Linked DNA regions of Homo sapiens. The protein of the gene in region 5 purifies or fractionates together with the protein of the main gene of each other region. This does not show direct contact. Each region holds a gene or a part of one and is shown on either strand. Other genes may lie near its edges. The genes, in order: GTF2I, RABGAP1L, HIVEP1, ZMYM2, RNASEH2B, VBP1 and DMAC2L.

Region 1 (3,500 bases), on a different chromosome or scaffold from region 5:
TACTGTTGTCCTTTTGTTCTGGAACTCTCCCTGCTGTCTTCCTGTTTGTTTTCTCCTCTGTAAAATTCTTGTTTTGGTATTCCATGCCTGTTTCTGGCAGTACTCATTTGCTTTTTACCACTTTGGCCTACTGAGAAAGTAAGAGAAAGTTCAGTATAGCCAGGAACTGTCAGAGTTGTTGGAGGATTGACTCATTCTCCTTTGGTTGTAACTTGTTTCTGTTTTTGTTTTTTTGAGAAGGAGTCTCCCTCTGTCGCACAGGCTAAAGTGCAATGGCGCGATCTCGGCTCACTGCAACTCTCGCCTCCCAGGTTCAAGCGATTCTCCTGCCTCAGTCTCCTGAGTAGCTGGGATTACAGGTGTGTGCCACCATGCCCGGCTAATTTTTGTATTTTTAGTAGATACAGGTTTCACCATGTTGGCCAGGCTGGTCTCAAACTGCTGACCTCAAATGATCCACCTGCCTCAGCCTCCCAAAGTGCTGGGATTACAGGCATGAGCCACCACGCCTGGCCAACACTCTATGTAGGATTTTTAAAGAACTAGTTACTTAAAAAATATATCATGAGAGGGAAGACAAATTTATAAATTGAGAGAGGGTTTATAGCTTATGGCTAGCGACACAAGTTTGAAGTCTGACTGCCTGGATTCCAGTCCTGGCCCTTGCCGTTTCCTGCCTGTGCGACCTTGGGCATTTCACTTCATCTTTGTATGTTTCCCTATTTTTTGTTTTTTTTTTTTGAGACAGAGTTTTGCTCTTGTTGCCCAGGCTGGAGTGTAGTGGCGCGCCTGGCTCACCGCAATCTCCGCCTACTGGGTTCAAGCGATTTTCCTGCCTCAGCCTCCTGAGTAGCTGGGATTACAGGTATGTGCCACCACCACGCCTGGCTAATTTTGTATTTTTAGTAGAGACGGGGTTTCTCCATTTTGGTCAGGCTGGTCTCGAACTCCTGACCTCAGGTGATCCACCCGCCTCGGCCTCCCAAAGTGCTGGGATTACAGGTGTGAGCCAACAGTGCCCGGCCTATTTTTTATTTTTATTTTTATTTTTTGAGACAGTGTCTTGCTCTGTTACCCAGGCTGGAATGCAGTGGCATGATCTCAGCTCACTACAACCCCTGCCTCTCGGGTTCGAGTGATTCTTGTGCCTCAGCCTCCCGAGTAGCTGGAATTATAGGCATGCGCCACCACACCTGGCTAATTTTTGTATTTTTAGCAGAGACAGGGTTTCACCATGTTGGCCAGGCTGGTCTCCAACTCTTGACCTCAGATGGTCCGCCCACCTCAGCCTCTCAAAGGCTGGGATTACAGGCCTGAGCCACCACGCCTGGCCCCTATTTTTAAAAATGGAGTTGATAATAGAACATGTTTCGCTTCTAAGAGCTGTTGCAAGGATAGAGTTTAAGTGCTTAGGTTGCTGTCTGGCATGTAGTAGACACTCAAGAAATATTAGTCATAAAAGTACTATTATAAAGACTTTTGGGAAATTGAGGAAGCGAAAATTTTACTAGTAATATCGACTATGACGTTAATCTCCAAGAACTCTGGAGAATATGAATTGCAAGGGCAAGGACTTATTCCTCTGTGGGATTTTCCCCTGTGACTGTTACATTGTTTTTATGTTTTGTTTTGTTGAGATGGAGTCTCCCTCTGTCACCCAGGCTGGAGTGCAGTGGCGGGATCCCAGCTCATTGCAACCTTCACCTCTGCCTCCCGGGTTCAAGTGATTCTCCTGTCTTAGCTTCCCAAGTAGCTGGGACTACAGGCGTGCGCCACCATGCCCAGCTAATTTTTGTATTTTTTAGTAGAGAAGGGGTTTTACTATATGTTGGCCAGGCTGGTCTGGAACCCCTGACCTCAGGTGATCTGCCCATCTCAGCCTCCCAAAGTGCTGGGATTACAGACGTGATCCACCGCGCCTGGCCAGAGCTTGACAGTTGGATTGATGAAACCTGAGAATGTATGCTTTATATGTTGTTCATTTTAATTTGTTATATCTAGAAATTTAGCTCTTACTGTTGACTATAACACATACATGACGTGAGTAGAATTTTATCTAGATTGAGTTTTCAGACCGTAATTGGTTTCAAGAAAATAAATAAGGTATTGGAAGTGAACTAAAATTAGTAACTGGCTTTGGCATTAGACTTTAATGCACTTAAATTACATGATCTCATCTGTGAGATAATTTGACAGAGGAGGACGATGGCATGTATTATGTCCATATGAGGAAAGGGCAGAGAAATAGACCCTGCAAGATTCATTAGTGTTACTCCTTCCTCCTGTTCGTTTTCTTTCTTCGTTTTCCCCCCCGGTAAGCATTAAAAAAAATTTTTTTTGGCTGGGTGTGGTGGCTCACTCCTGTACTCCCAGCACTTTGGGAGGCCATGACTCACTTGAGGTCAGGAGTTTGAGACCAGCCTGGCCAACATGGTGAAACCCCGTCTCTACTAAAAATACAAAAAATTGGCCGGGCACGGTGGCTCACACCTGTAATCCCAGCACTTTGGGAGTCCAAGGCGGGTGGATCACGAGGTCAGGAGATCGAGACCATCATGGCTAACATGGTGAAACCCTGTCTCTACTAAAAATACAAAAAAAAAAAAAAAAAAATTAGCCAGGCGTGATGGCGGGTGCCTGTAGTCCCAGCTACTCAGGAGGCTGAGGCAGGAGAATGGTGTGAAACCGGCAGGCGGAGCTTGCAGTGAGCTGAGATCGCACCACTGCACTCCAGCCTGGGTGACAGTGTGACACTCTGTCTCAAAAAACAAAAACAAATTAGCTAGGCGTGGTGGTGCGCACCTGTAATCCCAGACACTCGGGAGGCTGAGGCAGGAGAATCACTTGAACCCTGGAGGCGGAGGTTGCAGTGAGCCAAGATCACGCCATTCCACTCCAGCCTGGGCCATAGAACAAGACTATGTCTCAAGGAAAACAAACAAACAAAAAAACACATCTCTACTGAAAATACAGAAGTTAGCTGGGAGTGGTGACAGGTGCCTGTAATGCCAGCTGCTTGAGTGGCTGAGGCATGAGAATCACTTGAACCCGGGAGGTGGAGGTTACAGTGTACCGAGATCTTGCCACTGCTCTCCAGCCTAGGCGACAGAGCAAGACACCATCTCAAAAAAAAGAAAATCCTGTAAGATGAATTTGTTCCTTTATGAAGAATAAATTTGTGTCTGCCATTTACACCGTGAATGCCTTTCTTTGGAGTGGTTCCTTGTAGTGTTTTTTGTTGTTGTCGTTGTTGTTAAATTGTGGTAACATATACTTAACACAAAAATTACCATTTTAACCTTTTTTTGTGGGGGGAGGGACGGGATGTCACTCTGTTGCCCAGGCTGGAGTGCAGTGGTATGCTTTTGGCTCACTGTAACCTTCGTGTCCTAGGGTCAAGACATCCTCCCACCTCAGTCTCCCGAGTAGCTGGGACTACAGGTGCATGCCACCACGTCTGGCTTGATTTTTTTATTTTTTGTGGAGATGGGGGTCTCACT
Region 2 (3,500 bases), on a different chromosome or scaffold from region 5:
AAATTGTAAAGAAAATAAATTTTAAAAAATATTTAAAAAGGAATGAGGAAATTACAAAATGGTATGGAATGACCAGGCCATAGATTCAAAAACCTCAATGAGGCCAGGTGTGGTGGCTCACGCTTGTAATCCCAGCACTTTGGGAGGCTGATGGGGGTGGATCACCAGAGGTCAGGAGTTTGAGACCAGCCTGGCCAACATGGTGAAACCCCGTCTGTAGTAAAAATATTTTAAAAATCAGCTGGGTGTTGTGGCGGGCACCTGTAATCCCAGCTACTTGGGAGGCTGAGGCAGGAGAATTGCTTGAGCCCTGGAGGCGGAGGTTGCAGTGAGCCAAGATCGCTCCATTGTACTCCAGCCTGGGTGAGACTCTGTCTCAAAACAACAAACACTTAGGATTATTAGTTCCTAAGAAACATGCTTGGAGTACTTGCATACTTATTTAATCAAAATGTGAATAGAACAGTTAAAAATAAACATAGAAGGTATTACAATTGTAAAGAACTTTAATTCTTTCATAAGTGAGGAAACTTTGTTTAAAGTAGACAAGGAATAATAAAGCTCGCATAAAACCCAGAAAATTTCTACTACAGATAAGCAAGTATACATGACTGTGGCAGTGGATATGGTAGTCACAGAGGTGGTGGAGCCTGTTCGCTTTCTCCTGGAGACAGTAGTCCGTGTGTACCCTGCAAATGAGCGATTTTGGTATTTCAGCAGAAAGACTTTCACAGAGACTTTCTTCATGAGATTGAAACAGGTAGGACCTTTTTGTTCTCTTCATATATAGTAACAAACATTTTTCTTTCCACACTTCTTTTTTAATGCCAAGATAATTCCTGAAGTTGCAAAACAATACAATTCCTCAAAGAAATCAAATGATATTTGAAGTCAACCAATAGAGTGTTTGAAAAAGTCACATCTAGGTAATATTAGCTAAAAAAACCCAGCAAGTTTAATAATTACATACTTTTTCCCTAGAAACCTGTAATGTATGAACCTTCTTAACAGAAATATTGACTGCATATAAAACAACGTTTCTGCCTTTTATAAACAATTACTTAAAACCAAAAAGGCAGTGCACAGAAATATCATATGCTTATAAAATTTTAATGAAAATGTTTCTAAGAAATACCTAATTTCTATAGTTATTTCTGCCTGTAATATTAGATAGACAATATTATATGAACATCTTGTTTGACTCATCAGTGAGGTTATAAAATTATTTTAATATTAAATGAACAAAATTATGGTTTCTATGATATCCTCAAATTAGGCAGTATTAGTAGATAAAATATGTAACTTTTGTATTATAGCAAAGGAAGCAGATAATAATGAAAAATAACTTGAATGCTAATTGTGTGAGTTTTTAAAAAATCAGGATAAAAATGCTCTATTAGAATAATGAACATCTTTTATATGCTGTTTTTGTTAGTACTTTCATTCTCCCAAGTTTTAAAATGCTTGCTGCTTCATATACTATAATATGTGGACTGCTGTGTGATAAAAGCAGGCACCAGTACAGGAAACAAATATAGAAGCCTCTTACCCATTTTCATATTAAAAAAACTGCCATGGCGCATCTCGGCTTTATATACTATGTACTTGGAAATTATTGTGGTTTTAAAAAAATCTTTCATAAAATTATTATGGCTGTTATTTGACTCAGTTTTTATTACTGTGTGAACTGCTTTTATAGCATATTCTAATGAAGGTTATGTGAGCAATATTCAAACTTCAGTCTCCTGAGCATCTTTTAATATTTTATTATGAGACTTTTTTCCTGTCTTCCTTCCTCCCCATCCTTCTTTTTTAAAAAAATAGCTTAGTTATGACTATCCAATAATTCTTCATTTTGAGCCAAAGAATTATTCATAGTTGCATAATCGTGAATAAAGGAGCTGGAGCTGTATAGAAAGTTGTCATTCTTCTAATGATGATAAATTATAATGTAAATTATACCTCCTAGAGATCTGAGAAAATGTTAGGTTTTTCCCAGTTCTAGTACTTTTGACTGTCTGTCTGCCTGGAGAGAGAGAGAGAGAGAGAGAGAGAGAGAGAGAGAGAGAGAGACATTAAAGTAATTGTTAAAATTCATGTAAGTAATTATTGCAAGACCTGAGACTATAACTCCTTACCTTAAGCCAGAATATGCTGCTGTAAGGCCAGACTAGCTTCTTTCTACACCTCCAAAAGGTGGGTTGGTTTGGGGTGGTTGATGGTAATCTGGAGATGTTGGTCTACACTATACAACATTGGTAGAAAGAATGAATTAGGTGATTACCTAATGCAATTCAAAGTAACCTTTGAAAATCTGGGTCCAGGCCATTACTACTTTAAAGAAATAAAGAGAGAATGCATTGATTTCAGTTCTAAGTGATTTAGACACCTAGAACTTTTTCTTTCATTCTGAGAGTGTTGAACTTATTGAATGAAACCAGAACTTGTCCTGTACCCAGACAGGATTAGACCAGACTCCTGGGGGCAACACCAAAGTACATGAGATGCCCTGTTCCCAAACTATTTTTTCTTGGCAACTTTCTTCTCTCAAATATAGCAGAACTTTATGTGTGGGCAGTGGGGATGTATGAAAGTCTGCTTTGTTCCTGTTTACTGTCCACTCAGGGCCAAATGGCATTTCATTTCATTCATTGTCCATTTACTGGGAGCAAGGAGAGCACTTAACAAGAGGATGGAAACTAGAGTCTGGGAAAGTAAACTAGAGGCTGGGAAAGTAAACTAGAGAAAGTCCTTTTGTGTCCGGAATTGGTTCCTTTCAGTGGGTTCTTGGTCTTGCTGACTTCAAGAATGAAGCCGCGGACCCTTGCGGTGAGTGTTACAGTTCTTAAAGATGGTGTGTCCAGAGTTTGTTCCTTCAGATGTACAGATGTGTCTGGAGTTTCTTCCTTCTGGTGGGTTAATGGTCTCACTGACTTCAAGAGTGAAGCCGCAGACCTTTGCAGTGAGTGTTACAGCTCTTAAAGGTGGCGTGTCTGGAGTTGTTTGATCCTCCCGGTGGGTTCGTGATCTTGCTGGCTTCAGGAGTGAAGCTGCAGACCTTCGCGGTGAGTGTTACAGCTCATAAAGGTAGTGCGGACCCAAAGAGTGAGCAACAGCAAGATTTACTGTGAAGAGCAAAAGAACAAAGCTTCCACAGAGTGGAAGAGGACCCGAGCGGGTTGCTGCTGCTGGCTTAGGTGGCCAGCTTTTATTCCCTTATTTGGCCCAGCCTGCGCCCTGCTGATTGGTCCATTTTACAGAGCACTGATTGGTCCATTTTACAGAGCGCTGATTGGTCCATTTTACAGAGTGCTGATTGGCCTGTTTTTACAGAGTGCTGTTTGGTGTGTTTACAAACCATTAGCTAGACACAGAGCACTGACTGGTGCGTTTTTACAGAGTGCTGATTGGTGTGTTTACAAACCTTTAGCTAGACAGAGTGCTGATTGGTGCGTTTACGCTCCTTTAGCTGGACAGAAAAGTTCTCCAAGTCCCACCCG
Region 3 (3,500 bases), on a different chromosome or scaffold from region 5:
AAATAAAGCCGAGTTTCTTATGATTCCAGCTGGCTTGAATACTCTGAATGTTCCTGGATGTCACCGGGAAATGAGGCGTACTGCATCAGAACAGATTAATTGCACGCAAACGTCAATGGAGGTCTCTGATCTCAGAAGCAAATCATTCGATTGTGGAAGCATCACCCCACCCCAGACAACACCACTTACTGAATTGCAGCCTCCATCTTCACCTTCTCGAGTGGGAGTGACTGGGCATGTGCCTCTCTTAGAAAGAAGGAGAGGCCCACTGGTACGGCAAATATCTTTAAACATAGCCCCAGATAGTCATCTGTCTCCTGTACACCCAACATCTTTCCAAAATACTGCTCTTCCCAGTGTGAATGCAGTGCCATATCAGGGGCCTCAGCTCACTAGTACATCTTTAGCTGAGTTTTCTGCAAATACTTTGCACTCTCAGACTCAGGTTAAGGATCTGCAGGCAGAAACATCAAACTCCAGCTCTACCAACGTTTTTCCTGTTCAACAGCTCTGTGATATCAATTTGTTAAATCAAATCCATGCACCGCCTAGCCACCAGAGCACACAGCTATCTCTGCAAGTGTCTACGCAGGGTAGCAAGCCAGATAAAAATTCTGTTTTATCTGGGTCTTCTAAAAGTGAGGATTGCTTTGCTCCCAAATACCAATTGCATTGTCAGGTTTTCACTTCAGGCCCATCTTGCTCTTCTAATCCTGTGCATTCTTTGCCAAATCAAGTTATTTCAGATCCAGTTGGAACAGATCATTGTGTGACATCAGCAACATTACCAACCAAATTAATTGACAGCATGTCTAATTCGCATCCTCTGCTACCACCAGAGCTCAGGCCCCTTGGAAGTCAGGTGCAGAAGGTGCCATCATCATTCATGCTGCCCATACGCCTGCAGAGTAGTGTTCCTGCTTACTGTTTTGCTACACTCACATCCCTGCCACAAATACTAGTGACCCAAGATCTGCCCAATCAGCCAATTTGCCAGACTAATCATAGTGTAGTGCCAATCAGTGAAGAACAAAATTCTGTGCCAACATTACAAAAAGGTCATCAGAATGCTTTGCCAAACCCAGAGAAGGAATTTCTATGTGAAAATGTTTTTTCAGAGATGAGCCAAAATTCTTCTCTATCAGAATCCTTGCCCATAACTCAGAAAATATCTGTTGGTCGACTTTCCCCTCAACAAGAATCTTCAGCTTCGAGTAAAAGGATGCTTTCCCCAGCAAATAGTTTAGACATTGCCATGGAAAAGCACCAGAAGCGGGCCAAAGATGAAAATGGAGCTGTTTGTGCAACAGACGTGAGACCTTTAGAGGCTTTGAGTTCGAGAGTTAATGAAGCTAGTAAACAGAAGAAGCCTATTTTAGTGAGACAGGTTTGTACTACAGAGCCCCTGGACGGTGTGATGTTGGAAAAGGATGTTTTTTCTCAACCTGAAATTAGTAATGAGGCTGTTAATTTGACAAATGTTTTACCAGCTGATAATTCATCAACAGGATGCTCTAAATTTGTCGTTATAGAACCTATAAGTGAATTGCAGGAATTTGAAAACATCAAGTCATCCACATCATTAACTCTTACAGTTCGAAGTTCACCTGCTCCTTCAGAAAATACTCATATTTCTCCTTTGAAATGTACAGACAATAACCAAGAAAGGAAGTCTCCAGGGGTTAAAAATCAAGGTGACAAAGTGAACATCCAAGAGCAAAGTCAACAGCCAGTCACTTCTCTTTCATTGTTTAACATCAAGGACACCCAGCAGCTGGCTTTCCCTAGCCTGAAAACTACAACCAACTTTACATGGTGTTATCTCTTAAGGCAGAAGTCGTTGCATTTGCCTCAGAAGGACCAGAAAACTTCAGCCTATACTGATTGGACAGTAAGCGCCAGTAATCCAAATCCACTCGGTTTGCCCACAAAAGTTGCACTTGCTCTCCTTAATTCAAAACAGAACACTGGAAAATCACTATACTGTCAAGCAATAACTACCCATTCCAAGTCAGACTTATTGGTCTATTCAAGCAAGTGGAAAAGCAGCTTAAGCAAGGTACTTGAAATATAATTTATCTTCAGATATGGTTTGCGCAAATTTGTTTCCATGTGTCTTGATACCTTTAAATATTTTAACTGGAAATATTTTAATTTTGAGTGACAAATTGTGCTGTAAATGTCTTATTTGAAAGACAGGGTGATATATTTACCCCAGGAGTTACATTGATAAGAGTTACCAAGAGTCTTGCAGTGATTCTATCTTGAAAGATTTTAGAAATGATTTACCCTGAGCACTTTTCTTTTTCTCAGCTAACTATATAAGTCTTTACTTAGTAGTACAGATGATCATGGTTTTACTTTGATGTTTTACTTATATTGAGGTTTTGTTTTTCTTGTTAAGTGAAAGGAAATCATGGTTATGCTTTGTTCCTCCTCATGCAGGGAAACAGGTGTAGATAATCAAAGATAGTTGTATTTCATCCTGAAATATAAGCAGAAAGCCATTTAGACTTGTCTTGAGCTTACTAGCTACACGCCCCTGTCATGCTATGTAGCTGTCTTCCAGTGTAGCTGTGAGAACCATTAGCACTAGAGAGAAGTTTCACAAAATAATTCATATACTTGGTAAGTTGATTTGGTCAAGATTTATAAAGTAATTTAAGGTCATGAAACTGTAACTTGGGGTAATTTGTGGAATCAGTCTCATTAGAATTATCAGCTTTATAAAATGGGAAAAAGTCATTTACTTGATTAGAATAATAGGTAAGCATATCACGTTCGACTCTGCATATTCAGAAGTATTTGGCCTCTGCAGATTCATAAGCATGCAACACAGGTTAATAAACATTTACAAATCTGTCAGTAGGAAAATACTGCAGTATCAGTATTACCATAGAATTATGAACAATTCTAAAGAAGGAAGTTTCTAACATTACTGGTAGGTGGAAGAGAGAAGAATTCAGCAAACATACTCCAAAGGTGGTGATACTTTAGCTAACTGTTCAAATTTTTTTTAAAAAAATAGGGATTTTTCAGGCAAAGAAGAAGCAGCTTTTTTTTTCGAGACAGAATCTCACTCTGTCACCCAGGCTGGAGTGCAATGGTGCGCTCTTGGCTCATTGCATCCTCCCCTCCCGGGTTCAAGCAACCCTCCTGTCTCAGCCTCCTGAGTAGCTGGGATTACAGGTGCCCACCACCACGCCTGGCTTTTTGTATTTTTGGTAGAGACAGAGTTTCGCCATGTCTGGTTTGGCCAAGCTGGTCTTGAACTCCTGACCTCAGATGATTCACCCATCTTGGCCTCCCAAAGTGCTGGGATTACAGGTGTGAGCCACCGCGCCCAGCAAGAATAAAAAAAAAAATTAATAATACACGAAATGACATGGAAATGAGAATAAACTTGGTTCATTTAAAGAACTCTGAAGAGTCTGGCCTGGTTAAAAAGAGTTATAATTTGGAAACATAGGTAAAAATCAAATCATGTGTATGGTGGTGGA
Region 4 (3,500 bases), about 31 Mb from region 5:
AATCAAGGGACTGAAAAGTCATTCAACTTATAAAACAAGTTAGAACATTATAATTTTTTATGCCAAAACATTCAGATAATTATTGCTTAGATATACAATAATGACACCTGTGAAATTTTCCAAATCAGAATTGAGAAAATTTCTTTTGTGTGCTGTAACATTTATCCTATGGGAGAGAGGAGTATCTAAGGATGTGTAGCAATTGCTAGCCACTATGGAAAATAGCTCAATTTTCCCCTGAACAATTTCTAAACACTAATGCTACCATGGTCATTCAGGAATCAGAAGAAAACATGATTACACACATGCTAGAAAAGAGCCAAATGATTTCAAGATAATTTGCAGCTAGCACTTTGTTCAGTCTTTAGAAAGTAGATTTTAAGTTTCCTTATTCTAAAAGAAAAGGTCTGAATGGATAAATTGCTATGCAGAAGCACAAAGTTGTTTTTTTTTTTAATGCAATCTTCTATAAGAAGTAATTTCAAAAGCCAAACAATCTAACATTAAATGGGATTTCCTCTGAGACTGACTTTCTCTATTAGTTTCTTTGTTTGTTCCTCAATCATTTGCAATATCAGAATTACTACACTGGTAATCTTCATTATAAAATGTGATCCTATCTTATTTAACATAGCTTGACTTTCTGTAACTATTTCAGGAGTGGAATTTCTAAAAACAATTTTATCCAATGTAAACAGGCACAAGAATTCTGATAAAATTGCTAAGTTTTAGAGTACTACACAGCTAACATTGCAGCATGATCTGTATCCTTAAGAGGGAAAAAAAGAAATAAAAATCAAACCTCTATAAATGAAGAGGATTTCAGATACTTATGGCTGGCATAGAAGAAAACAGAATTTTATACTTTCACCAGACATTTTTACAAAGGAAATGTCTTGATGATCTTGTTTTCAACTTACAATCATTTATATATATATATATATATATATATATACACACACACATACATACATATATATACATATATATATTTGTTTTTTATTGATTGGGTGATGCAGAAAGCCACAAATGAGAAAAGGACACTAAGGTTTTAATAAGGGGAACAAAAAATTGTTTTCACCAGCATAGATTCACATTACAGTACACCAATATTGACAGCATTCTCTTGTCTATTTTTGGTACAGAAGATGGTATCTCTCTACATAACCTTGTAAGGCTTCAGTAACTAAAATGTAAAACCAAACAAAACAAAACCCCAAAACAAAACAAAAACCCCAGCCTATTAGTTTACAGTTTATTTTAAAAATTCCGAAAGACACTGCAAGTTCTAAACTTTTAGTAGTGCTACCCATACACAACCATCTGGTTAAGAACCCAGTAAAAGAGCCCCCTTCCAAGGAAGCTTTGCAACAGTAGAGTTGTGCAATATGGATGTTTCTTACTACAAGAAAAAAATTATACATGGCACATTCTCATTCATATTCTGTAATGTAAAAAGTTACAAACATACCTAATCAAATAAATAATAATAAAAAAAGAATTTGAATGTATTTGTTAAGTATCCTAAAACCACTACATAGAATAATGGCAACTTTCACTCACAGATTATTTACATGGTAATACCCAGCGTGGGTACACTGCTACAAAACTCAAAACAGAAGGAGTAAACTTGAAATGTTTTCCATAATAAAGATCTAGCAGCATGACTATCTAATGCTGTTTTATCCCGATTGCTTCTGCAACGTTCCTTTTTAGTCTGTGTCTTCATCCAGTTCATAATTGTCTTTATCATAAATATCTTTTACTAGAAGAACCCGTACAAGCATATTTTCCAAGGTGTTTCGGTCCAGTGAAGTAGACGTATACCAGACAGGGCTATCTGTAGAACTAGAGCATTCTGGTTGCAAATAAAAAACATCCATCCTCTGATTAAGATTCTGTGGACTTTGGAGGCGGGAGGAAAAAGAGAAAAAGTCAATTTCACAAAATTTCCACAACTTTTTCTTTTTTCAAGAATAATTCAGACCCCATTAATCACGTTATATGACCAGACCCCCTATGCCCCACTGTCTCCATTATTCTGTCATTAAAATATTCTCAAAGTTATTTTCTGAGATAGAGATTATTTCCCACAATTTTAATTCTACTTCACTAAATCCAAGACACTATCAATAGACACACCACTCATTATTTTAATGCTACCATTAAGCAAGTGAAACACTGCCAATTATGATTTCAAGATGCAACAATTTAAACTGTGCATCCCAGTTTCAGAAATAGTGAAATGTGAAAATGTCTTAGAATTGATGAAATATGTATGGCAGCACATAAAATTAAAAAATTCTTACAGCACTACATAATAGAAACTCAATTTTTAAAATACCAACAAGGTAATAGTGAGATAGGAATTTCCTACTAACAAATAGTTACTACCAACTGAAGACCCTGACACTACTGCAGCCAAATAGGACCACCCTAAACCATGGTGAGAAATACAGGCTGAGCATCCCTAATTCAAAAATCCAAAATCTGAAACTCTTTGCCAAAATGACACCAAAAGTGGAAAGTTCCACACCTGACCTCATGTGAGGAGTTCGCGCCCAAAACACAGGCACATAACACACAGGTTATTCAGCAACCCCAAGGGGAAAATAAAATCACCTTCAGGCTATGCATAAATAAAATTATCTTCAGGCTACATGTATAAGGTGTATATGAAATATAAATGAATTTCATGTTTAGAGTTGGGTCCCAGCCCTAAGACATCTTATAATGTATATGCAAATATTCCAAAATCCGAAAAAATCTGAAATCTAAAACACTTCTGGTCAGAAGCATTTTGGATAAGGCGCATTCAACTTGTACTAATATCATCCTATACATGATACTATTGTTTTTACAAGTCCTTGAGGGCCATCCTGGGGACCTGTGATTTATAAATTTGTTTAAACAGGGAAGTACATTTTGAATTCATGCTGACCTTCTGAAAATTAGAGAGTGCTTACTTAAAACAACAGGCAAGCATAAAATAATCTATGGTCTCTAAACGTTTTATTGGCTTAAACTTTTTAAAATGCCTGTTGGTCTGAGATTGAGGGGAAAAAAAATTCCAGAACATGATTCCATTTTTCATACCTGCTTGACTGTTTTCTCTTAAATGTAAATACTTCACTTACATTTCCACCTATCTATACTACCTTTGAGCATACCTTTACACCGGGCATTGGCAAACTACAGCCAGCCACCTGCTTATGTGAAGTTTTATTATAACACAGCCACATGCCATGAATTTATATATAGTATATGGCTGCTTTCTAGTCACAAGAGAACCGATTAGTTACAATAGTGATTCCATAGGCCCAAAAGCCTAAAATATTTACCATCTGACCGTTTAAGAAAAAGTTTGTGTCCCTTGCTTTGCTGTCATTGGAATTGCTGTAATTTAAAAGACAATGACAGGCGCAATGGCTCATGCCTGTAATTCCAGCACTTTGGGAGGCTGAGGCACGAGGATGGCTTGAGGTCAGGAGTTCAAGACC
Region 5 (3,500 bases):
GATGAGATATGACATGTGATGATACCAAAGATATAAGATAAAACAAGTATAATACAGTAGATGCTCCCTAAATGACATTAAAAACAAAAACTCAGGGTTGCTTTCTTATTTGAAACCACTGAATACAAATAAAGTTTAAAAATCATCTACAACAATATGAAATAGTCATGTCTTTTTTAAAAGGGTAATCTTTTCTAAGCCTGCTTCAATAAAGAATAAATCTAATTATTCAACAGTAATGAGTGTACTCATTTAAGAGAAATAAAATACCATGTCTCTACTACTAGGTATTTGCTTTATAAGAACCCTGAAATATATATATATAGTTCTATACATACATATTGTTCTATATACATAGTTCTACATACACACACACACACACACACACACACACACACACACACTCCCAAACTAATAAAATACTTAAACTTAAACAACTAACTCAGCAGAATTTATCATCATTAATTCTAAAGCATTTGGATTCTCAGTACTAAAATGCAGCTCTGGCAGCAATTAGAAATACAGTTACATAAGAAGACAATAAAATGTTTCAAAACTCTGTTCCTGAATTCAGTATTTTATGTAGAATACAAGCAGATAATCAAACTTAATCATAAGATGGGATAACCACGTGGGGATATAAAGCACCAAAAGCAGACCCCAGGTTTGCTGCTGGGATATTCACTCACTTCCTTTTTTCCATTCTCCTCTGCTCTCAAGTCAAAGTAACAATTTGCCTCAGTATTACATAGAAAATGACTGCCGTCTGGGGACCACCTGATGTCAAAAAGTCTTCAGTAAGAGATTTTCATTGTCAATGGAGAACTGAAAGTTATCATTTGACCCTTCTTAAAATTGCTCATGGATCTGGGATAGTCATTATCCAATGAGTCATGACTAGACCAAGAAAACTATTTTAAGAAAGTCAACATATAGTTCATTTGCTGCTTCTGGTACCAAACCAACCTAAATATCTAAAAAATGAAATAATGTAAAATATGTAAAGTTTACTTTATGGTCAGGACACTAAATGGCAATATAGCCAAGCCCAGAACCTTAATATGTAGAGTACTGGTAAAAGCACTAGACTTAGAACAGAAGATCTTGAGGATAAGTTACCTACCTCTCCATTTAAAAAATGAGATGATCTGTCTAAATAACCTCTAACATCCCTTCTCCTACTTTTAAAACAAAATCTATGGTTCCATCCATCCATCCATGGATGCATCTATCCACCCACCTATCTATCCATTAATCATCTATCTCAATCCCTCATCTTCTATTGTTAAAGCCAATTAAAGACACTGACAGCTGGTAACTCAGTATGGCAAAGGTGCTGTCCACCACTCCCAGAATGGCAGTAGCCAACTACCTATACATGCAAGGTAGATTCCTGCAAATCAGATTGCCTGAATTACTATCAATCACAAACAGGCCACTATTCCTAGTTTTTATTTATGTAATGACTAAAGCCATATGTATACCCTGAATAAGGGAACAATGAATTGGAGTTTAACGTCAGAATAATTTCTGTCTCACCATTTGAGATTGTTAACTGCATTATATAGCTGTTCTTATTCAACTATACATATAAAAATAAGAGGACTCTACTTGGAAAAGAAAATAATATACCTTTTTTAGATTATAAAAGAATAACCTAAAAGAAAAATTGCCAAGTAAATCAATTTTCATCTAAAATCAAAATATATTGATCCCTGTATCAGGAAACATGCATCTTGAGAAGAAAATGCAAACAGATGCAGCCACTGGAACAGTACAACTGTGCCACAGGAACAGTATCACAAAAAGATTACAAGTGTGGGCTTCAGAGACAAGCTCCATAAGTAGCTCAGCTTTGGCATTTACTAGTTGTGAGACTTTGCACAGGGCCTCAAGATGCTCATTATGAAATTTACTGGGAGGGTTGGATGAGATCATGTTTGTATAGTGGCAACTTAGCAAAGGGCCTGGCACACAATACACCCTCAATAAATGATAGCCAGGGTTGTTACTACTATCAATGTAAAAGAAATATTTGCTGAATAAATAACTTAAGTATCAATGAATGACAGAAGTAACCTATGGTAGAAATATTCTTCGCTTCTGAAATAAGATGCACACCTGCCACAATGTGTATGAGGCATTGGTAGGAATATGAGGCTTCTGTGATATTAAGATTTTTAAATCCTAAGATAGGCATTTACACATAAGCAACTTACTCCAGACAAAAATCTTTTCTGATAAAATGCTTTACTTACCTTCCTTGTCAGTGGAAGCTTGGTCACCAGAGAAAAATGCAGTTGACTGTACCCGGGAACTGACATTCACATTATTGGTTTTTAATGCTGCCACAGTTTGATTAACCTATGAAGCAACCAAGAGGGGAAAGGCAGGGTATTTTCAACTTAACTTTAGAAATCTATGAATTCATAGGTGGCCTTCAGACCATTTAAGAGATCTGCAAAGAAGTATTTGAGAACCTAGAAGTATCTTCACCAGACACCAGAAGATGAGAAATGGTTGCCCATTTGAAGAAAGGCTGAGTGGCAGCAATATCTGGATGATCTCAATACATGGACTTCCATGGCCTACACAATATGAGAAGGCAACATATTGTGATAACTGAGAGCTGACTCTGGAGTCAGGCTGCTGGGCTTGGCTCTGTAACCACGGCTAGTTACTTAACCTTTCTGTGGCTCTATCTGTGAAATGGGGGAAAAAAATAGCATTCACCTCATAAGACTACTGTGAAAATTAAATGAGGTAATATATGTAAATAAAGCCCTTACAATAGAACCTGGCACAAAATTTATATGTAATAACTTCCTAAATAGAATAATATAAATTTCCCACTTCCTAGGAAATATAATCAGTAAGTATAAACTCCTCTTCGCTATTCATGTCATTTTCCTTGGCTAAGAGCAAAAGTAAACATCAAGGATTCTGCTCCGCATTTATTCTCATTCTTCGCCTACATGGAATACTACTACTACTATATCACAAATAAAAAATGAAACATGGCACTCTAAATCTTTCCACTACTTTGCACATTAGGAGACTGATTATTCTACTGGACTCATTTCCAGCTTCCCAGGCTTTCAATGAGCCTGGTAACATGGTATGACAAATAAACACAATTTATTTATTATTTATTATTATTTATTTTTATTTATTATACTTTAAGTTCTGGGATACATGTGCAGAACATGCAGGTTTGTCATACAGGTATACATGTACCACAGTGGTTTGCTGCACCCATCAACCCATCATCTAGGTTTTAAGCCCCACATGTATTACATATTTGTCCTAATGCTCTCCCTCCTCTTGCCCCTAACCCCCGAAACAGCCCCGGTGTGTGATGTTCCCCTCCCTGTGTTCATGTGTTCTTACTGTTCAACTCCCACTTATGAGAGAGAACATGCAGACAAACATGACTTTTCACACAAAAGATGGAAGAGAATCTTAGGAAACAGTACTACAACTACTGGTATCCACTGATC
Region 6 (3,500 bases), on a different chromosome or scaffold from region 5:
TGGTCCAGGCCACCTTTGTCTCTTGCCAGGACTGTGGGAATACTGTCTATTAGTTTTTAGGGATGCCATAATAAAATTACCACAAACTGGGTGGCTTTAACAACTGAAATGGACTGTCTCATGGTTCTGGAGGCCAGAAGTCCGTGATGAGCCCCAGAATCAGGGTCGATTCCTTCTGAGAGCTGTGAGGGAAAATCTGTTCTAGCCTCCTCTCTTAGCTTTGGTGTTCGCGGACAGTCTTTGGCATGTTGATGTGTAGAAGCATCACTGTGATCTCCGCCTTCATCTTCACATGTGTGCATGCATGTGTCCAAATTTCTCCTTTTGAAAGACCTTATCTCCAAATAAAGTCACATTCTGAGCTACTGGGGGTTAGTAGTCCAACTTATTTTTTGTTGGGGAGACAGAATTCAATCCATAATACCTTACTTCCACGTAAGGTCACATTCGCTAGTATAAGGGGTTAAAACTTAAATGTATCTTTTTTGGGGACACTGTTTAACCCATAATAATACCCTAATTCACTGTCTTGCTTCTGCCCTTGCTGGAATTCCTAAAGTCTTTCCAGCACAGTGGTCAGATTAATCCTTTGAAATCTCAATCAGGTCATTCCATTATTCTGCCCAAAATCTTTGAATGGTTTCTTATCACATTCCGAGGAAAAGTCCAAGTTCTTTGAGTGGCTGACAAGTTCCTATACATCCTGGTACTCTCTGTTACTTCTCTCTTTTTTTTTTTTTCTGAGACAGAGTCTCACTCTGTTGCCCAGGCTGGAGTACAGTGTTGTGATCTCAGCTCACTGCAACCTCTGTCTCCCGGGCTCAAGCGATTCTTGTGCCTCAGCTTCCTGAATAGCTGGGATCACAGGCACGTGCTACCATGCCCAGCTAAATTTTTTGGTAGAGACGGGGTTTTGCCATTTTGGCCAGGTTGATCTCGAACTCCTGGCCTCGGGTGATCTGCCCACCTTGGCCTCCCAAAGTGCTGGGATTACAGGTATGAGCCACCGTGTCCAGTCTCTCTGTTCTTCTCTTACTTCCTCGCTTGGCCACACTTGGACTTCTTGCCAGACTTAGAGCATGCTGGGAATGGCCCTGCCTCAGAACCTTTATTCTAGCTCTTTCTTCTGCTTAAGCTGCCAGAGTAGTGCTTTTAAAACATGTCAGATGATTCCGCTTTTCTGCTCAAGACCCCAGTGGTTTCCCTGTCACCAAGGGTGGAATACAGAGGTGTCCTTTCCACAGGACAGCCCTACTCCCTCTCAGCACTCATTTATGCTCATTCTTTTGCTCACTCTGCTGTAGCCATGGTGGCCCCCTAACTGTTCCTGGAACCTGCCAGTGTGGCCCCACATTTCTACTTCTGTGTTCTTCACACTCAATCCTTTGAGTTCTCAGTTCTGATTGTTAGCTCCCCCAGGGACCTGCTATGACTTGTCTGTCAGCATTTCTTGGTTTCACTTGTACTGTTTATCTTGTATTGTTTTCCTTCAAAGTACTTAGCACTCCCTGATATGTTATTGATTGGTGTATTTACCAGTTCCCTGACACATAATAAGTGCTCAGTAAAAATTTTTCTTGGGTGAATGACATTTTTGTTAGTTTTTCATCAGAGTTCATACATGCTAATGGTTCAAAGAGCAAATAGAAAGCAGCAGGCTACTGCTCCATCCCCAGATGCACCCACTTTTAATCATGTCTGTACATCTGTATGTACCTAAATATTTGGAATTTTGTTAATTGTTTTTACAAAAATGGGATATATATTGTATATTGTTCAGCACAGATGTCTTTATTTGTGAGTAGACACAGAGTTTGCCTCCTTGGTTTTATTGGCTTACTATTCTGTGGTAGGGCTATGTGATAATATTCCCAAGTCAAGGGGTGTTTGGATTGTTTTAAAATTTCTTGTACAGTGAGCGGTGCTGTAGTAAATATTTTTGCACATATAGACTTGTATACAAAGGCATATTTTTGTATGCTGCTTTGAAATGGAATTGTTGTGTCTAAGAGTATGCACATTTAACATGTTGATGGATACTATCAAATTGCTCTCCAGAAAAGACTACCAATTTTCATTTTCTCCAACCGTATATAAAAATACCCTTTTATTAACAGTCTCACCCACATTTTTAGATTTTTGCTAGTTTTATAGGTGAAAATAGTATCATCTTATAGGTTTTTGTATGACAAAATGCTCATTTGTATTTCCTCTTCTGTTTCCCTTCCTGACTATGTTGTTGCTCCATTTTTCTGTTGGATTCTTTTTCTTTTTTTTTTTGATAGACATTTAGGTCTTCTTTATATATTATGTATTTCGGATGCACAGTCTTCTCTTAATATTGCAGATACTTTTTCTCATCTGTCACTTGTCTTTTGTGGTAGCTCTTAGAAGTTTTAAATTTTAATGTAATCGACTTTATCAGATATTTATAATTTTATCTTAACAGTGTACTCCTTTCACCAAATCTGCAAACATTTTTTTCCTAATATTTATATACTTAAATTTTTTAGAAAACTTTTTTGTTAAGGATAACATGGAAAGATAAGCAACTCCTCAGGATAATGGGTGAGTGACTTCCAAAAAGAGGGCCTCCCAATGGCCAGTAAACATATGAAAAGTTGTCCCACTTCATTAGTAAACAGGGAAATGCAAATTAAAAGCACAATGTGATCTCACTGTGTACCCACCGGAATGGTAGGGTGATACTAAGTGATGGTAGGACATGGAATAGTGAGAACACTGATTTACTGTTGGTGAAGGTGTAAATGGACACAGCCACTGGGGAAACTGGCAGTATCTGTTAAAGCAGAACATATGCATTGCCTATGCCATAGCAGTTCCATGCCTGTCTCTATCTCTTTCTGCCTCTTGCTGTATATAAGAAATGTATAAATATTAACTAAAAGAAAGGTATAAGAATGTTCATATCAACTCTGTAGTAACCAAAACCTGGAAACAACCCAAATGTTCATCATAGTCGAATGGATGAGTAAATCATGATGTGTTCAGACTGTGGAATACTATACAGTACAGAGGAGGAATGAACTGCTGCTACACGCCAGCACTGCAAGGGTGATTTTCACAAACAAGGTTGAGTGAAAGAAACTGCATAGCAAATTACCACAAACTCAGAGGCTTAAAACAATATCCATTATCTCCTAGCTGTATAGGTCAGAAATCCAGATGGGCTTGGCTGGGTCCTCTGTGCAGGGTCCCACAAAGCCAGAATTAAATTGTCAACAGGGCTGTATTCCTTACTAGCATCTCTGGGGGAGAATTAGATTTCAGCCTTATTCACGTTATTGGCAAAATCCGGTTCTCTGTGGTTGAGGTCCCTGTTTCCTTGCTGCCTGTCGTCCAGGAGTCAGTCTCAGCTTCTAGAGGCCACCTGCAATCCTTGGCTCATGGTCCTTTCTGTTTTCAAAGCAGTGATATGACTAGTCTTTCTTACACTTTAGATCTTTCAAACTTCTCATTCTGCTGCCAGCCAGAAAAAG
Region 7 (3,500 bases), on a different chromosome or scaffold from region 5:
CTATTATCCAACCACGTTGGGTGTTATTTATCTCTTTATATGTTATCTCTCTTTATTAAATTATATGTTCTATGAGGTCAGGAACCTTGTCTTTCTGTGTGTCTCTTTCTCCTTTGTTCTTGTTTTTGTTTGTTTTGTCTTACCATTGTTGCCTTTGCACTAAGTATAGCAGACATTCAATAAACATTTTTTGAGCGAATGAATGAATGGACATGGCATTTGAGTAAGGTCTTGAGGTTGGGTGGGATTTCCACAGATTGATGGTGATGGGGGAGGGAGGCTAAGAGAAAACAGCCTGAGTAGAAGCTGGGAAAGCCCATATTTGTAAATAAGATTGACAACTAATAGAGTTATTCAAGGTGGGCACAGGCAGAGAGCGCTTTAACAAAAAGTTGGAAAGGGTTGAGAACATGATAAGAGGTAGTGGAGCAGAGGCTTGCAGTAATGAAGACGGCTGTAGTGAAAAAGGGATGAAAGGGTAGTTGGTTCTGTCTTCAGTTCACATCTCTCACTGTTCCACGGCCTCAGCATCCTCAATCACTTCCTCAGCTTTAAGGTGTTTCCCTCTCAGGCATCTTTCTAGTCCTCTTCTTTCTCTTGAATTCCAGAACCATGTAATGATTGAGGAAAGGACCCTGGGCTGGTAGAGAACTGGGTTCAGGTTTCAACACTGCCACCAATTAGTCATGAAACATTGAGCAAGTCCCTTTAAACACATGCATTTATTAATACCCCACCTTGTTTCAGAAAGGATTTAGGATGTCAGGAAGTTACTTAATATCAGGGCTTCAGTTTCCTCACCTCTAAATGAGAGATTTCATCCAGGTGATCTAAATTCCTTACAGCTCTAATGTTTTGTGACCTCTGATTCCAATGATTTGTTGGTCATCTGCACTTAGAAATCCTGCTAACACTTAGTATGTAGATTATGAAAAACTAAAAGAAAAAAATCTGAACCTATAACCCTGTTCTCCTAATGTGATTTCTTTTAATGGCATCACCATCCTACTACCAGTGACCCAGGGCCAAAACTTGGTGTCATTTTCAACTCCTCTAGCCCTTGCCCCTACATCTCACTTAACTGAGTCATATGGAACTAACTATGTAATGTCATTCCCATCCTTCCCCAACTAGGCCCTTTCGTATGGCCTCATGTGATTGAAGCCCTTGCTGACTGGCTGTCCCATTCTGTTGACCCTTAATCTTGATGCTGCTGAGTCAATTTCTTGAAGCACAACCGTAACAATGCCAATGCTTTGTTCTATTTTATTTATTTATTTATTTTTGAGATGGAGTCTCACTCTGTTGTCCACGCTGGAGTGCAGTCTGGTACAATCTCAGCTTACTGCAATCTCTGCCTCCCGGGTTCAAGCGATTCTCCTGCCTCAGCCTCCCGAGTAGCTGGGACTACAGGCGCATGCCACCATGCCTGGCTAATTTTTTATTTTTTTATTTTTTGGTATTTTTAGTAGAGACAGAGTTTCACCGTGTTAGCCAGGATCGTCTCGATATCCTGACCTCGTGATCTGCCTGCCTCGGCCTCCCAAAGGGCCAGTGCTTTGTTCAGAAACCTCGGTGACTCCCTGCTACATACAGAATACAGTCCAAATTCCCTGGCTGAGCATGCAAAACACTTCACGACCTGACTGTGCAAGTTGCCTGCCTCTTCTCATGACTCACATGTGCTAGTGAAACTGAAAATAACATGCCTTAAATGTTCCTGCTTCAGCTAATAATCTGGCATAATTTTTCCTGGCACCTTTGTTTGTTGAAATCCTTTCTGTCCTTATTTTAACTCTTTTGAGGCATTTATCAAGTTCTGTCACTTATTTTAACTACTTGATAACGTGTCTTAGCCCACTCCATCCTGCATTAAATTGTCAGATGCTCAAAGCAAACACCATGTTTCATTTATCTTTGTCTCCCCATCTCCTCCTCCCTGCCACATCCAGTCCCCTGCACACACCTAGCATACTACTAGGGAAACTTGAATTGAGGTCAATCAAATCGAAACCTACTCCAGGAATCACTTTCTCAAATTATGGTTATACATTTTGACAGCTGGAAATTAAGCAAATCATCTCATTTTACAAATGAGAAAACCAGAGGTCAGAGAGGTGAAGTTACTTGCCCAGTCTTTCCCAGCTGCCCTTAAAACAGTTTTTTTGTTTACACTGCTCTGGTAACACCACTTGCAGCCTTGTCATAGGTAGATCTATTTTCATGTCTCCTCTTCTTTCCTGGATGCAAGCATCTTAACCTTGACACGTTGCTCTTTCGGTGATTTTAGTCTGTCATTTTGATGCTGGAAATATAGATGGGGAATAGAGGAGCCAGCTTCAGCAAATTCATAGCTACAGCGCCTGAATGGACACTAGATGGCAGTACGACAGGCAGACTCCAATTGAGGTTTCAACAGTGGAACTTAACGTTCTAGCCGGAAGGAGCCTTAGACACCATCCAGTCCAACCCCTCATTTTTTTGCAGCAAACAAATAAAAAACCCCAAGAACAAGAAACAGGAGTGACTTGCTCAGTAATTGTTGAGTGGCAAGTGAGTCATCAGCTTTATCAGTACAAGAGCATTGACTCTGAAGTAAGTTGCTATATGTATGGGACTCGGATGATGATCTAATGTAAGTACTGTTTTGTGTGTCTAGATCAAATGATGCCGTTTGGAAAAATTTCCCAGCAGTTGTGTGGCGTAAAGAAACTCCCATGGTCATGTGACTCCAGATACTTCTGGGGCTGGTTGAATGCAGTGTTTAATAAGTAAGTTACTCTAAATAAAGTGAAGAAATGTGGAGATGGTTACAGCTAAATAAGTTCCCAATAGCTTGTTTGGCTATTTCTCATATTTACAGTTTGTGCAGTGTGATCCTAATTTTGTTTACAAACAAACAAAACCCACACAAACATGGAAAAAACACCAGAAAAACAGATTACAAAATATTAATTGTGGCTGTTTGGGTTGCAGGATTTCGATGATTTTTCTTACTTGTCCTTTTGATATATTTCAAGTTTTCTAAAACATTTTATAATCAGAAAAACTTATTAAATATAATTTTAAAGTATTTTATTTTTATGGCTTTTTAAAGGAATGTAGTTAACCTTTTGAATTCTATCAAAGTAACTTGGGTTTTCAAAAAATTAGTGGGTGGCACACTTAGAAATGTCATTTTGAAACTTGAAACTAACCTTCTAATTACTTAATACAGCATTATGATCACTAGCTAGAGAAAAAAGCATATGTAGAAATTAATAAATATCACTTAATGAGATTAATTTGACCACAGATTCAGAATTATTTTCTCTTTAATCTTTTGTTATTAATACAAATTCTAACCAAGTATAGTCATTCGTAGAATAGTTACTAAGTATCTCTGGTGTCAAGCACTGTACTATATGTGAATCAATGAAACGTTGTGTCTGATAAATTCATATAAAAATAATACGCCTTGACAGCGTTCACGTGGAAACAAAAACAAAACTAAAAAAGTC

What was found.
Region 1: the proteins of RNASEH2B (region 5) and GTF2I purify together in Homo sapiens (co-immunoprecipitation; one study listed by IntAct). This does not show direct contact.
Region 2: the proteins of RNASEH2B (region 5) and RABGAP1L purify together in Homo sapiens (affinity purification with mass spectrometry; one large-scale study listed by BioGRID and IntAct). This does not show direct contact.
Region 3: the proteins of RNASEH2B (region 5) and HIVEP1 purify together in Homo sapiens (affinity purification with mass spectrometry; one large-scale study listed by BioGRID and IntAct). This does not show direct contact.
Region 4: the proteins of RNASEH2B (region 5) and ZMYM2 purify together in Homo sapiens (co-immunoprecipitation; one study listed by IntAct). This does not show direct contact.
Region 6: the proteins of RNASEH2B (region 5) and VBP1 fractionate together in Homo sapiens (co-fractionation; one large-scale study listed by BioGRID). This does not show direct contact.
Region 7: the proteins of RNASEH2B (region 5) and DMAC2L purify together in Homo sapiens (affinity purification with mass spectrometry; one large-scale study listed by BioGRID and IntAct). This does not show direct contact.

Annotation. Positions count from the first base shown.
Region 1 is NC_000007.14:74,664,218-74,667,717, forward strand, and holds part of GTF2I (general transcription factor II-I), read left to right. Parts: intron 1-3,500. UniProt on the Homo sapiens protein: Interacts with the basal transcription machinery by coordinating the formation of a multiprotein complex at the C-FOS promoter, and linking specific signal responsive activator complexes.
Region 2 is NC_000001.11:174,278,020-174,281,519, forward strand, and holds part of RABGAP1L (rab GTPase-activating protein 1-like), read left to right. Parts: intron 1-593; coding exon 594-760; intron 761-3,500. UniProt on the Homo sapiens protein: GTP-hydrolysis activating protein (GAP) for small GTPase RAB22A, converting active RAB22A-GTP to the inactive form RAB22A-GDP. Plays a role in endocytosis and intracellular protein transport.
Region 3 is NC_000006.12:12,123,812-12,127,311, forward strand, and holds part of HIVEP1 (zinc finger protein 40), read left to right. Parts: coding exon 1-2,059; intron 2,060-3,500.
Region 4 is NC_000013.11:20,084,227-20,087,726, reverse strand, and holds part of ZMYM2 (zinc finger MYM-type protein 2), read right to left. Parts: intron 1,906-3,500; coding exon 1,713-1,905; 3' UTR 1-1,712. UniProt on the Homo sapiens protein: Involved in the negative regulation of transcription.
Region 5 is NC_000013.11:50,944,291-50,947,790, reverse strand, and holds part of RNASEH2B (ribonuclease H2 subunit B), read right to left. Parts: intron 2,365-3,500; coding exon 2,259-2,364; intron 1-2,258. UniProt on the Homo sapiens protein: Non catalytic subunit of RNase H2, an endonuclease that specifically degrades the RNA of RNA:DNA hybrids. Participates in DNA replication, possibly by mediating the removal of lagging-strand Okazaki fragment RNA primers during DNA replication.
Region 6 is NC_000023.11:155,229,960-155,233,459, forward strand, and holds part of VBP1 (prefoldin subunit 3), read left to right. Parts: intron 1-3,500. UniProt on the Homo sapiens protein: Binds specifically to cytosolic chaperonin (c-CPN) and transfers target proteins to it. Binds to nascent polypeptide chain and promotes folding in an environment in which there are many competing pathways for nonnative proteins.
Region 7 is NC_000014.9:50,318,824-50,322,323, forward strand, and holds part of DMAC2L (ATP synthase subunit s, mitochondrial isoform a precursor), read left to right. Parts: intron 1-1,739; exon of another isoform or gene 1,740-2,553; intron 2,554-2,659; coding exon of another isoform or gene 2,660-2,664; coding exon 2,665-2,771; intron 2,772-3,500. UniProt on the Homo sapiens protein: Involved in regulation of mitochondrial membrane ATP synthase. Necessary for H(+) conduction of ATP synthase. Facilitates energy-driven catalysis of ATP synthesis by blocking a proton leak through an alternative proton exit pathway.